Regions from separate parts of the Homo sapiens genome. Here all the other regions are linked to region 2. The links come from fine-mapping of genetic effects on gene expression. A gene starts in region 2. Each other region holds a variant in brackets. All regions are shown on one strand. Distances are from middle to middle. Region 1 has its middle 150 kb from the start of DAB2IP. Region 2 holds the start of DAB2IP (DAB2 interacting protein). Region 3 overlaps DAB2IP (DAB2 interacting protein).

Region 1 (4,240 bases), 150 kb after region 2:
TGCTGGGATTACAGGCGTGAGCCACCACGCCCAGCCTAGAAGTTTTTAAAAAGCCTTTTGCTTTGGAAATCATTTCTGACTTACAGCTAAGTTGCTAAAATCAATGGTACCAGGAATACCGTGTGCCTTTTACCTGTAATCTATTAATATTTTTACCCCCTTAGCTTTATCATTCTCAGTCTCCCTCTTTCCGCACACACATGCACACACATACACACACAATTTATTTTCTGAACTGCCTGAAGTTAAGTTACATACATCATAGCCCTTTATCTAACCTAAACACTTCAGTAGTATATTTTCACTAAGATTAGGAATATTCTCTTACATAATCAACTTCAGTCAATTTAACATTGGTATACATTTTTATCTACTCTCAACATTCACATTCCAATTTTCTGAGTCGAACCAATAATGTCCTTTTTCAGTAATTTTCCCCTGTAGTACAGGAGGCAGCCTAGGGGCAGGGGCTGCAGTTAGCTGTCATATCTCTTTAGCCTCTTTTAATCTGGAACATTTTCATAGCCTTTTGTGATCTTTTATGGCATTGACATTTGAGAAGAATACGACCAAGCACACCCACCTTTTTCAAAAATAGAAAAGCATTTGTCTGATGTTTCCTTGGGACTAGTTTTTGGTTCTTCATTCTTAGCCAAAATCCTGCATAGAGCGTATTGAGTCCTTCTCAGAGGAGCACATCTGGAGGCACAAGACAGCCATCTGTCCTTCCTTGGTGATGTTAATTTTGATCACTCGATCAAGGCGTTGTCCAATTTCTTCACTGTATAATTACTGGAGTTTTTTGATCTTCTTTGCAACTAATAAGCAGTCTGTGGGGAGACACTTTGAGACCATGAAAACATTCTGTTCCTCATCAGAATGTTCCCCTAGATTTAGCAACCATGAATGATTCTTAATTGATCCCATCTTTACTAGGATAGTTGCAAAAGATGATTTTCCAACTCTAACAATCTCTCCACTTCGCCGGTTGACTCTCAGAATTCTCTCGTCAGCATAGGTCCTCCTTCTCCCCCACATATTGATAAATCTATTTACTATTGGTATAGATTCAGAAATTTCCATTTTTAAGGGTTTATATTTCATTACTTTATTATTTTGGTGCTCAAATAGTCCTAGATTTTGCCACCGGCAGCCCCTTTAAGCTGCTGACATTTCCCCCAAAAGTGCTTTTGATCATTCCTTATTTTCTGGTGTAACAAAACGTCCCAGGCTCACAATGTACCTACCCTGCCCAAGCTCTCAAATTAGTCATTTCTCCGAGAAACCCTGGGTAATGGTATTAAGAACCAAGATCTGCGAGCTAGTAGAATGGCTTTTCTTCTTGACCTTGTCAGCAGACAGAACTAGGAAATAAATACATATATGTGCATATACACATCCACGTGCACACAAAAGTGCATATACACATTCTACAAATCATGGGTTTGCATCTGTACCTCCAATTCCATGGAATCTGAAGTTTAACAGGCACCCCCGGGAAGCAAGCTCCTGCATCAGGCAAATCAGGAAGAACCTGCAAATGCTCATCAGAGGAGAAAGCAACCCACAGGAGGGAGAGGTGGGGCTGCTCCCTGCTCCCTGCACCGAGCAGGGCACCCTACAGGAATAGATGAGCCCGCTAACCTGCAACACAGGGCAATGGTGAGTCTTGCTTTGCTCCCCATCAGAGCATGTCGGAGATGCAGAACCCTCTTAATGGGTCTTAAATAAATGCTGGAGTGGTTCAAGTGATGTTTCCTCAATAAACAGGAGTGTGCTGCTAGGAGAAAGGAACGGGCTGAAAACAAGAACTTGGAAGGAAAGAATGTCATTGCTGATGGTGGACAACAGAATGTGTGTGCTGAAAAGTCAAATCAGTGATCCATTCTAGAACATCGGCTTGAAGCATCCAAGAATAAGGCAAAAGAGAAATAATTGGAAATTAAAGGGACAATAAATAAATGGGAATATCTCATTCATGGTAATAATTCAAGAAAAGCAAATAAAAATAACAAATATCTATATTTTTTGGTCCAGGAATGTTTAGGTAATAGAAACACAAAAGGAATCAACCTAAATAGAGAAAAATATATGAGATTTGTTAAAGAACATATAGGGGCTGGGGTTCCCTCTGCCACTGCATGTCACAT[T/C]GCATCGCAAACTTTTTTTGGGGGTGGTGGGTATCCATCACTTCAAGCATTTCTCACTTATTTGTGTTACAAACATTCCAATTATACTCTTTTAGTTTAGGGTCTTTTGTTTTGTTTTGTTTTGTTTTGTTTTGTTTTGTTTTAAGACGGAATCCTGCTCTGTCACCCAGGAGTGCAGTGGCGCAATCTCGGTTCACTGCAGCTTTTGCCTCCCAGCTTCCAGAGATTCTTCTGCCTCAGCCTCCTGAGTAGCTAGGAGTACAGGCACATGCCACCACGCCCGGCTAATTTTAGTATTTTTAGTAGAGACAGGGTTTCACCATGTTGGCCAGGCTGATCTCGAACTCCTGACCTCAGGTGATCCATCTACCTCGGCCTCCCCAAGTGCTAGGATTACAGGTGTGAGCCACTGCACCAGGCCTAGTTATTTTTAAATGTACAAAAAGTTACTGTCAACTGTGGTCACCCTGTTACGCTATCAAATATTAGGTCTTATTCATTCTTTCTAACTATATTTTTGTACCCATTAATTATCCCCACTTGCCCCGTCCACCCTCACCCTCAACACCCTTCCCAGCCTCTGCTAATCGTCATTCTACTTTTTATCTTCATGAGTTCAACTGTTTTAACTCTTAGCTCCCACAAATGAGTGAGAACATGCAAAGTTTGTCTTTCCGTGCCTGGCTTATTTCATTTAACATAATGACCTCCAGTTCCATCAATGTTGTTGCAAATGACAGGATCTCATTCTTTTTTATGGCTGAATAGTATTCCATTGTGTGTATGTACCACATTTTCTTTATCCATTCATCTGCTGATGGGCACTTAGATTGATTCCAAATCCTGGCTATTGTGAATAGCCATGTTGCAATAAACATGGGAGGGCAGATATTGCTTTGATATACCTGTTTCCTTTCTTTTGGGTACGTACCCAGCAGTGGGATTGCTGCATCGTATGATAGTTCTACTTTTAGCTTTCTGAGGACCCTCCTTACTGTTCTCCATACTGGTTGTACTAATTTACATTCCTACCAACAGTGTATGAGGGTTCCCTTTTCTCTCCACATCCTTGCCAGCATTTGTTATTTCCTGTCTTTTGGATGAAGGCCATTTAAACTGGGGTGAGATTATATATCATTGCAGTTTTGATTTGTATTTCTCTGATGGTATTTTATTTGATTTGTAGCCATTGTAAATCGGATTACTGGTGGTATTTTCTTTGATTTGTAGCTGTTGTAAATGGGATTGCTTTCTTGATTTCTTTATGAGGCTGTTCTGTTGACATACAGAAATGCTACTTATTTTTGTATGTTGATTTTGTATCCTGCAATGTTACTGAATTTGTTTATCAGTTCTAATAGTTTTTTGAACTGCTTAGTTTTTTTCAAATATACAATCATATAATCTGTAAACAAGGATAATGTGACTTTTTCCTTTCCAGTTTGGATGCTCTTTATTTCTTTCTCTTGTCTTATTGCTCTGGCTAGGATTTCCAGTGCTATGTTGAATAACAATGGTGACAGTGGACATCCTTGTCTTGTTCCAGATCTTACAGGAAAGGCTTTCAGTTTTTCCTCATTCAGTATGATACTAGCTGTGGGTCTGTCATATATGACTTCTATTGTGTTGGAGTATGTTCCCAGTTTTTTGAGAGTTTTTATCATGAAAGGATGTTGAATTTATTAAATGATTTCTCAGCATCAATTGAAATGATTATATGGTTTTTGTCCTTCATTCTGAAGATACAATATATTACATTGATTTACATATGTTGAACCATCCTTATATTCCTGGGATTGTAAATGTAGATTTATTTATGCTCTCTGTTATTAGGCTGTGGGGCTCAAATTTTATTCAACCTAGTATAATTATCACCTAACATGATGCTTGGCCTGTGGTAAGCTCAATAAAGGAAAGGCCATATTTCTTAACCACAGAGCAATGAAAGTGGGAATTAATAACAAGAGCTTACCTGCTGCTTAGAAATCTCATCAACAGATGAATGGATAAGGAAAATATGGTGTGTGTATATATATATACACACACACACACACATATATACATATACATATATACAATGGAACACCATT
Region 2 (4,240 bases):
GGCCCAGGATGGCTTTGAATGCTGCCCAACACAAATTCATAAACTTTCTTAAAGCATGATGAGGTTTTTTTGTGTGTGTGGTTTTTTTGTTTGTTTGTTTGTTTTAGCTCATCAGCTATGGTTAGTGTGAGTATATTTTATGTGTGGCCTGACAATTCTTCTTCTTCCAGTGTGGCCCAGGGAAGCCAAAAGATTGGGCACCCCTGGCCTAACCCAAAGGAGGCTAAGGGTGTCCTCTTGGGCACCCTGGTTTTCCATCTTCCTGTGGGATTGGCCAGTATTCAGGGAAGAGGGGACCAGGGCAGCTGATAGCTCTGGACTCCTCAGACTGAGTTTGCTGGAGTAACACCCCTCCTGCCCCTCCCCCCTGGTCAGGGAAGGCGCCTGGCTTCCAGCTGTGAGACAGGCTCCGCAGGACTAGGGACCCTCCCCGCTGGCTGAGAGCGCTAGGGAGGGGGCTTCCCCTGTGAGGTGCAAAACCCGGCCTGGATTTCTGCCCAGACGGCCCCGCCCACTCCAGGGCCCCACCTTCCCCACTGTTCTGGAGGAAGATCCCCTAGCCGGCCTCAGGCACTTGCGGTGACTCACACCCCCCACCCCTAAGTCTGAATGTTGAGAGCCCCAGGCTAAGACCACTTGCCTCTGCCACTTTCCATGTGACTGAGGCAAGACCTCCTTGCCAAGGCCTCAGTTTCCCCCTCTGTACTTCAAAGGAGGCAGCTCAGGCAGGTGTCTTAATAATTTAAACGACGAATATTGCTAAAGAGATAAGGGGCGGGGAGAGAGAGAGATCACTGTGGGCCATGGTTAGGGAAGGGTGGAGGAGCTGGGTCCTGAAAGGGTGGACTTTGGTCGGGTGGAGAAAATAGCCAAGAAGGCAGTCCCTGCTGGCAGCACAGCAAAGAGAAGTGAGAATTAGGGGGAGCAGAGGTGAGGCTGGAGGGGACTTTGGTTGGGGCAAGATTATTTGGGGTCCAAATAACAAGGATGTTTAGACGTATTGCCATTGTGCTCTGGGGAGCCACGGAAAGCTCTTGAGCTGAGGAGTGACTTGGAGAAAGTTTTTCAGCCAATGCAATAGAGGGAGTTGGTACCTTTCCTTCTGCCACCCTGAGTTTCTGGTGCCTACGGTAGGGTAGGGATTGTTCTGCCCTGCCTTCAGTGCTTTGAGTGCTTGAAACAGACACCGTAATTTTAATTACATAAAAATGATACGTGTATCAGACGGGACAACCTTTAAAACGTAAAGAAGAGGCAAGTATCCTGCATCACAGGGGAGTCTTTCAACCTGGCTGGGCCAGGGCCTGCGGAGCAGTGAGGGTCGTTTCTCAGCCCAGCGAGCCTGGGGCAGGAACGGACCCTAATTGAAGGTGACCGTCCCCAAGCATGCGTCCTACCCCGGGCTCCGGAGAGCGCACAAGCAGGTGTGCACCGTCTACCCGCGCTGGCGGGATTGGGTGCCTGGTGCGCCCTCAGGTCGACGGTCGAACCCTCGGGGGCGGGGGTGGGAGCCAGAACCCTCGGGACGACCCGTCTGGGGTCCCGGGGAAACTCCGGGCCGCCTCGCCCCGCCGATTCCAGGCCGGGATTTCTCCCGCACTGACTTTCCGGGCCGGTGCCAGCCCGGCCTCCGGGTCCCCAGCCCCCGCCGCGGGGCCGGCTGCTCGGGGAGCGGGAGGGGGCAGGAGGCGGAGGAGGAGTTTGAGCGACTTTGTGGGGCAGCCAGGGCCTCGGCGGCCGCTCGGGCGAGCGCGGGAGAACGCGTGGGCGCCCGCCGGGCTGTCCGGAGCGGCCGATGGGGCCCGTGTGAGCGCGCCCAGGCCCGGCCCGGTGCCCGGCGGGCGGCAGCATGTCCGCGGGCGGCAGCGCCAGGAAGAGCACCGGGAGGTCCTCCTACTACTACCGGCTGCTGAGGCGGCCCCGGCTGCAGCGACAGAGGAGCCGCTCCCGCAGCCGGACCCGGCCTGCCAGGGGTAGGCGCCACCCCGACCCCTGACCCCTAGACCCTCCTAAGGCCACTAAGCCACCTGATGCCCTGGGATGCTAGGGACCGGGATCCTCCTTCCAGCCATTTGCCGGGGGTTTCCTCATCCGCCCCTTCCTGAGTCTGCCGGACCCCCCATTCCCCCAGCTTCTGCTTAGTCCTCCTCTCGCCGGGGGAAGCCGAGGCTCTAGGGTCTCCTCTTAAGCCAGGGACAGGGAGAGGGGAGCCTGGAATCTTTCTCCGCATCTCAGATCAGACCTCCTACCCCACTGTGCCTCAGTTTACTCAGCAGCCGGGCAATAAAGTAACCCAGGGTGGATCTGAGCTTTCCCACACCTTGCCTTCCCAGCCCAGGCCGCGGACTTCTTTCTTCCCTTTCCAGGAACTTAACGGGCTCCCCACCTCTTGGGTGCTAGGACAAGTGGGTGGACCTCAGGGAAGGAACCGTGACCCCTCGAGCGGGTGGGCGCCAGCTCCTTTGCAAAGTTTCTCTCCATCAAGCTCAGGAGGCAGGACGAGACGGAGGGGGAGGTGCGAGCAGCATTTTCTTTTTCCAGTAACAGGATCCTCGGCTGGAAATGCGTGTGATCCCGGGGGCTGCGTTTGGGCGGGTGGTGGCCGGGACTTCCTTCCCTGGCTGAGTAGGAGGGAGGGAAGCCCCTGGGAGGAGGAGGCCTTCAAAGGGGCTCTGGGGAGGCTGGAGTCCTAGGCAGAGGTTCAGGCCCACCGAGGGTGCCCGTGGGGTGGAAGGGAGGAGAAAGACGGCGCCTTAGCAGGGACCTGGGCCGAGTTGACACCATCAGGTTATCTTGAAAGTGGGAAGCCGGGCCCTGTGCCAACAAATGCCATGCAGGGAATCTGGTAGACCAAGAGGGGCCACATTCCCACCCTGCAGGCTGCCGTTGTGTGACCTGGGCTGAGCTGCCTCTGAACTTCAGTTTTCTTGTCGGTGTGAGGGTAAATGAAGCAGGCAGGTAGTGTTCGGTTGCTTCCACCAGAATGGGGAAGACTTTTCCCACAGTCAGGTCTGAGTAGCACTGTGCAGTCCAGGGCTTCCTCAGGAAGTAGTGAGTTCCCTGTGCACAGAAGGGTTCAAGCTGAGGCTAAGTGTGTGCACAGGTGTGTGCTGGTAGTTCAGTCCTCAAGGGTCTCTCAAAGCCTGCAATCCCCCCACTCCTGCCTTTCCTGAAGTCTTAGTAAGTACAGAATTAACAGTACTAAGTTACTTAGTAAGTACAGAATTAACAGTACTAAGCCTTTAGTACTCCTTGGAGGGAGTACTAAGCCTTTAGTACTCCTTGGAGGGAGTACTAAGCCTTTAGTACTCCTTGGAGGGAGTACTAAGCCTTTAGTACTCCTTGGAGGGAGTACTAAAGACCTGGGGAAGGCTTTATCTCAGTGGTTCAGGTTTTGGTTCTTCTATCTCTGTCCTTCTATTTAATTCTGTACTTGCTAAGACCTGGAGAAAGGCTTAGTACTGTTAATTCTGTACTTACTCCCTTCCCCTGGACTTGGTCTGGGAGACCGGGAATCTGGGCTCAAGCTTTGTGACTTTGGGCAAGTCATTTCCCCTTTCTGAGCTTAGTTTTCCTGGTTGTAAAATGGACCTGCCGTATGTGGAGGATTCAGTGAAGAAACTGAGAAATGGGAGCTTTGAAAATGCCCAGTACTGTTCAGACCACCCTGGGGCCTCTCCTTCTGCACCCACCTCACGTCACCTCACCCACCCGCCCCTCCTTTGCCTCAGAAATGCCCTGTGTGACCTTTTCCTCTTCTCACCTCAGCCCAGTTCCATCCCTGACTGTAATGGGAGTCTCGCTCCTGTTCAGCTGACCTCCTGCTCAGCTGACCAGGCAGGGGATAATCAATGTGTCAGGGGCTGTCACCTGAGCCCCAGCTCCCAGACCCCACATACACAGGATCACTGCTTGTGTCCCAGCTTGAAGGAGCTCACGGCCTGCAGAGCGGGGAGGAGACTGTCTCTGAACAGAAGTTATATCTGGGGAGATCAGGGAGAGCTTCACAGAGGAGGTGACATTTGGATGGGATCTCACAAAATGGATAGGGTTTCCCTTCGCAGAGGGAGTAATTGAGTCAGATCTGGGTTCAAGTCTCAGCTGTGCACACAACTATTCTACAGCCAGTTACCTCTCCAAGCCTCAGTGACCTTGTGTGGTCAATGGGGCTAGCAGTGACAGGGTCATGTGAGGGCCAGAAGCCAGTGCCTGGGACTAAGGCTGCAGCTGAGGGTGAGCT
Region 3 (4,240 bases), 75 kb after region 2:
ACTGTACGCCACATGCAAGTAGAACATTTATGTCTTGTACCCTGATGTGTCTCTGGCACCTAGAATCGGGCCTGACAGAAAGTTGGTGAATGAACAAACAAACATTTAATTGTACCCCATAATGTGGACACATTGCTGTCTACATTTTACAGATGGGGAAACTAGACTCAAAGAAGAGGTGGATTGACTAGCCCAATGTCATACAGCTGCAGCGGGACAGAACCAGGATTTTAGCCCAGTGTCTGTGGCCTCTGAGCCCTGTCTCAGCCAGTAGACACTCCCACCTCCCCAGAATCTAGGATGGACAGGAATGGGAGGGGGCCCAAAAAGGTGGGTAGGATTTTACCCTGGGGATTGAGGGGTGAGGCCAAGGAGGGGGTGAACCATGAGGGTCTGAGAGGGCCAGGGGCAGGTCGGGGACTTCAGTGAGGGTCAGGACAGGGAACCCTTGCAAGACAGTCTCTGAGGAGAGCACCCCCGGCACCAGCCACTCCCAAAGACCAGCCGCCTCCAGGCTTCTTGTGCTGGCTTTGGTTCCTGGCACGATTTCTGTTTCCCAGAGGAGCTCAGGCCTGGCCCGGCTTCCCAGGGTGGAGAAACACATGGTGAGTGAGTGTGTGTGCGCGCGTGTGTATGTGTGTGTGTGTCCAGCCTTGCTGTTTGCGTTGTCGTCACGTCTTCTTAATCAGCCTATTTCTGGGAGCGATGACTTCATCTCCTGTGATTCTCGACACAGCCATTGTCAGGCGTCCATGGAAAGATTGGGCCTGGCAGTGTCCATATTCCCCTAACGAGCCAGGTTGGGAGAGCCAATTGGCGGGCCCTGGTCTGACCTGGCTCGGGGGCTTATGGTCAGGTCTATCTCCAAGAGACTCCACTGCCCAGGGTCACCCTTAGATTTGGCCTCTTTGACCCTGGGGTACCCAGTGCAGCAAATTCCAGCCATTGTTTCCTGTGTGCTTCCTCTGTGTACGCTCTGCTGTGGGCAGGGGGTAGGGGACAGTCACGCCAATCTCTGCCCTCAAGGGCTCCTGCTGTCTGACAATGCAGATGAGTCAACAGACCTCACCTTAGAGGGTCTGTGCGTGAACAGAGAAGGGAGTGAGGACTCTACCAGCGCTCAAGGAAGGCTCCACTGAGTTGGTGGTTGGGCCACAGGGTGAAGGTGAAGGTTCCCTTGAGGGAGGGAAAGGGCTTTTGGGCATGCCAGGTAGTTGGGTATCACTGGGCACGGGGCGGCTATGTGTTGGGCCTGGAGAGTGCAAGGAATAGAGGGGAAGGTAGCAGGAAGGCAGCAGGGTATGGACTTGATCCTGAAAGTAGCTGGGAAGGATTTTAAGAAGAGATGGGACCTAGATAGATCAGCGATTTTAGAAGCAAGTCCTTGGCTGTGTGTAAGGGTAGGTGTGGAAAGGTGTGACACTGGGAAATATATACAGTATTTGGTTTCTTGGCACACGACTCCTGAAATCCTTAGATTCTTTAAAGTGATGTCTACTTATTTGCTAATGAGTTGACTGATGGCTGGCAGCCCCTAGGTGGCTTCAGAAAGGGGTCACAGAAAAGACCAAGGCAGGATTAGAGGGTTAGAACTTTCAGCCCACCCCACAGCCCCTGGGGCAGGGAGAGAGGCTGAAGGTTAAGTTAGTCGCCAATGGCTAGTGCTTTAATCAATCATGCCTATGAAATGAAGCTTTTATAAAAACCCAAAAGGACAAAGCTTGGGGAGCTTTCAGATAGCTGAATGCTTGGAGGTTCCTGGAGGGTTCCTAGGGAGGGCATGGAAGCTCCACGCCCCTGCCCACATACCTCTCCCTATGCATCTTTTCATTGGTATCCCTTTATAATAAACTGGCAAACAGAAGTAAATATTTCCCTGAGTTCTGTGAGCTGTTGCAGCAAATTAATCAAACCCAAAGAGGGGTTTATGGGAAACCCAGTTGATAGCCAGTCGGTGGGAAGCACTGGTAAACCAACACGGGGCTTGCAATTGGCATCTGAAGGATGGGGGGATAGTCTTGGGGACTGAGCCCTCAACCTGTGGATCTGATGCTATCTCCAGGTAGATAATGTCAAAATGGAACAAAATTAGAAGACATCTGGGCTGGTGTCTGCTGCCCAACTAATCGCCTGCTTGGTGTGTGGGGACAACCCCTCCCGCCCCCACCACATCTGGTGTTGGAAGTATTCTGCTTTGTGAGAGTATAAAAGGAAAGGGGAGAAACTGAGTTGGGTTTTTTCTACAGAAGGTGTCTGGGACAGGGAGGAAGAAGCTGGCGACTGAGGGCTCAGCCCTGTATTCCCCTTTATCTTCAAGGGGAAGGGTCTCTTTCCCCACCCTACTCCCTCATACTGTACTTCAGGAACTGGTGCCAAGGCCAGCTGAGCTCAGCCAACTGCCAGGAGCTCAGTTCCCCACCCTGGAATGCTGGTGGGCTGGGGATGGGAGGTGGAGAGGAGTAGGGATGTGGGGTGGTCTCTCAAAAATATTGTGCTGGACT[T/TA]ACTGCAGGCTTATGTATAGCTTTGCCTGGAGGCAGGGGGACAGTTGAATGAGTGCCAGCAGGATAAAGCACTCTGAGGGGTGATACCTTGTGTCCTGCTCTTGGCCTGGACACTCGTTACCCCCTCACCTCCATTCCCCATCTGGAGATCCCTCAAGCCCCACCTTGAAGCAGAGACACTGATGTAACAGTTCAGGCTCCTGAGCTGCACTGCCCGCGGTGAAGCTGCTTCCCAGCGTTGTGGCCTCTAGCAGGTGACTTGCTCTGTAGTGAGTTTTAGTTTCCCTCTCTGTCAAATGGGGACAAAAAGTGTAACCATTTCCTAAGATACTTGTGAGGATTAACATATGTTTTAAGAGGGAGGCTTAGCAGAGTGCCTACACATAGAGGCGCCAGCGTGCCTTAGCATGGCAGTGGGGGTGTGGCAAGGGTGAGGGCAACTGTCTTCACCATAATTGCCAAGGCTCCCTTAGGATTCAAAAAGCCAGGGATCAGAGGAGTGAGGAGGTGTGATGGGAAGGCCCAACAGGAGAGCCTGTTTGGCGGAGCAAGAAAGAGACTGGGCCCTCCTCTCCACCACTCTGTGACCTCATCTCTCTGAGCCTCAATTTCTTGGCCCAAAGAAATGGTGAGAAAAGGAATGTTGGGGGCCCCCACTGCAGGGGCAGGTGAGGAGCTAATGTATCTGTTAACACTTGTGTATTTCCTTTTCCCTCAAAGCCGAGAATCAGCTGCTTGCCTCTCTCTTGGGCAGGCATCCAGCAGGGAAATGCTTTGAAGGAAGCCTTCCCAAGCTGAGGGTAGCCAGGCTCTCCCACCTCCATCTCCTTCTCCCACACAGGGCTGTCTGCCTTCTCCCTTGTCCCTGAGCCACCACCCATCATCCTTTGCATGCCTTCATTGTTCCAGCTGCTCAGTGTTGTCTTTTTTTGTAAGAAAACAGTCCAGTTCAGCAAACATTTCATAAGCACCTGTTGTCTGCCTGGGTCTTTTTTGGGCTCAGGGCATACAGGGGATGGTTAAAGTACCAACCCAGCTATTATAGGGGAGAATATTATGGAATTGTTTTGAAAGATCTGAATGCAAAAGCAGCGATCCCAGGGCAGGAGGCCCTGGGTTCTAGGCCCTTGTTCTCCTTTCTTCCCTTGGGACCTTGGGCAACTCATGGTACTTCTCTGAATCTCAGTTTCTTCAACTCAAAACCCAGGTCAGTCTGTTGATGCCCCTGGTTCTAAGAGGCATCCTGTGATCAGTTTTGGAGTAACACCCTGTGGGCTCATCAGTTAGAGAGGTCTGTGGGAACTGCAGTTTCAGGCCATAGTGAGAACAGCAGACCCCAGAGGGAGGAGTCTGATCCAAGTTTGAGTCCCGTTCCACTGCAGCTTTTGCTAGTTGCGTGAATTTGGGCCCGTTCCTTAACTCAAAGACTGGGTTTTCTCAGATGTAAGGTAGGCATTGTGATATGCCTGCCAATAGGGAACTCACGGGTCTTATTAATGCTACTGAGATCCTGTTCTCAGATACAGGGCCTGCTCCATGCCAAGAATACATACCCAACCCTCCAGAGCTCCTTGTATCAGAGAGGGGCATTAGTGCCCAACTTAAGAGGAGCCAGTGAGGGTGGGGAGGCCTGCAGCTGGCCCAGGAGCTCTAGAATGACTGCAGGTGGGCTGGGCAGGGGCTTCTTGATTTCAACATGCACTAGTGTGGAATTCTATCTAGCTTTATGAAGAAAATGT

Evidence for each region. PIP is the estimated chance that this variant, and not a neighbour inherited with it, causes the effect. A credible set is the group of variants that fine-mapping cannot tell apart.
Region 1: its variant is the best candidate, but not a certain one, in a credible set for the expression of DAB2IP in tibial nerve (GTEx, PIP 0.54).
Region 3: its variant is the best candidate, but not a certain one, in a credible set for the expression of DAB2IP in whole blood (TOPMed, PIP 0.84).

What each region holds. Positions count from the first base shown.
Region 1 is chr9:121,801,391-121,805,630 of GRCh38, forward strand. No RefSeq gene overlaps it. Among named protein-coding and RNA genes, the nearest start is that of DAB2IP, 150 kb to the left of the region's middle. The variant T/C (reference allele first, on the strand shown) is at 2,151.
Region 2 is chr9:121,649,927-121,654,166 of GRCh38, forward strand. DAB2IP (DAB2 interacting protein) reads left to right here and starts at 1,708. Exons shown (of 16, transcript NM_001395010.1): 1 at 1,708-1,973. The coding sequence starts at 1,850. RefSeq lists an enhancer at 1-285.
Region 3 is chr9:121,724,542-121,728,781 of GRCh38, forward strand. All of the region lies in intron 3 of DAB2IP (DAB2 interacting protein), which reads left to right. Among named protein-coding and RNA genes, the nearest start is that of DAB2IP, 75 kb to the left of the region's middle. The variant T/TA (reference allele first, on the strand shown) is at 2,502.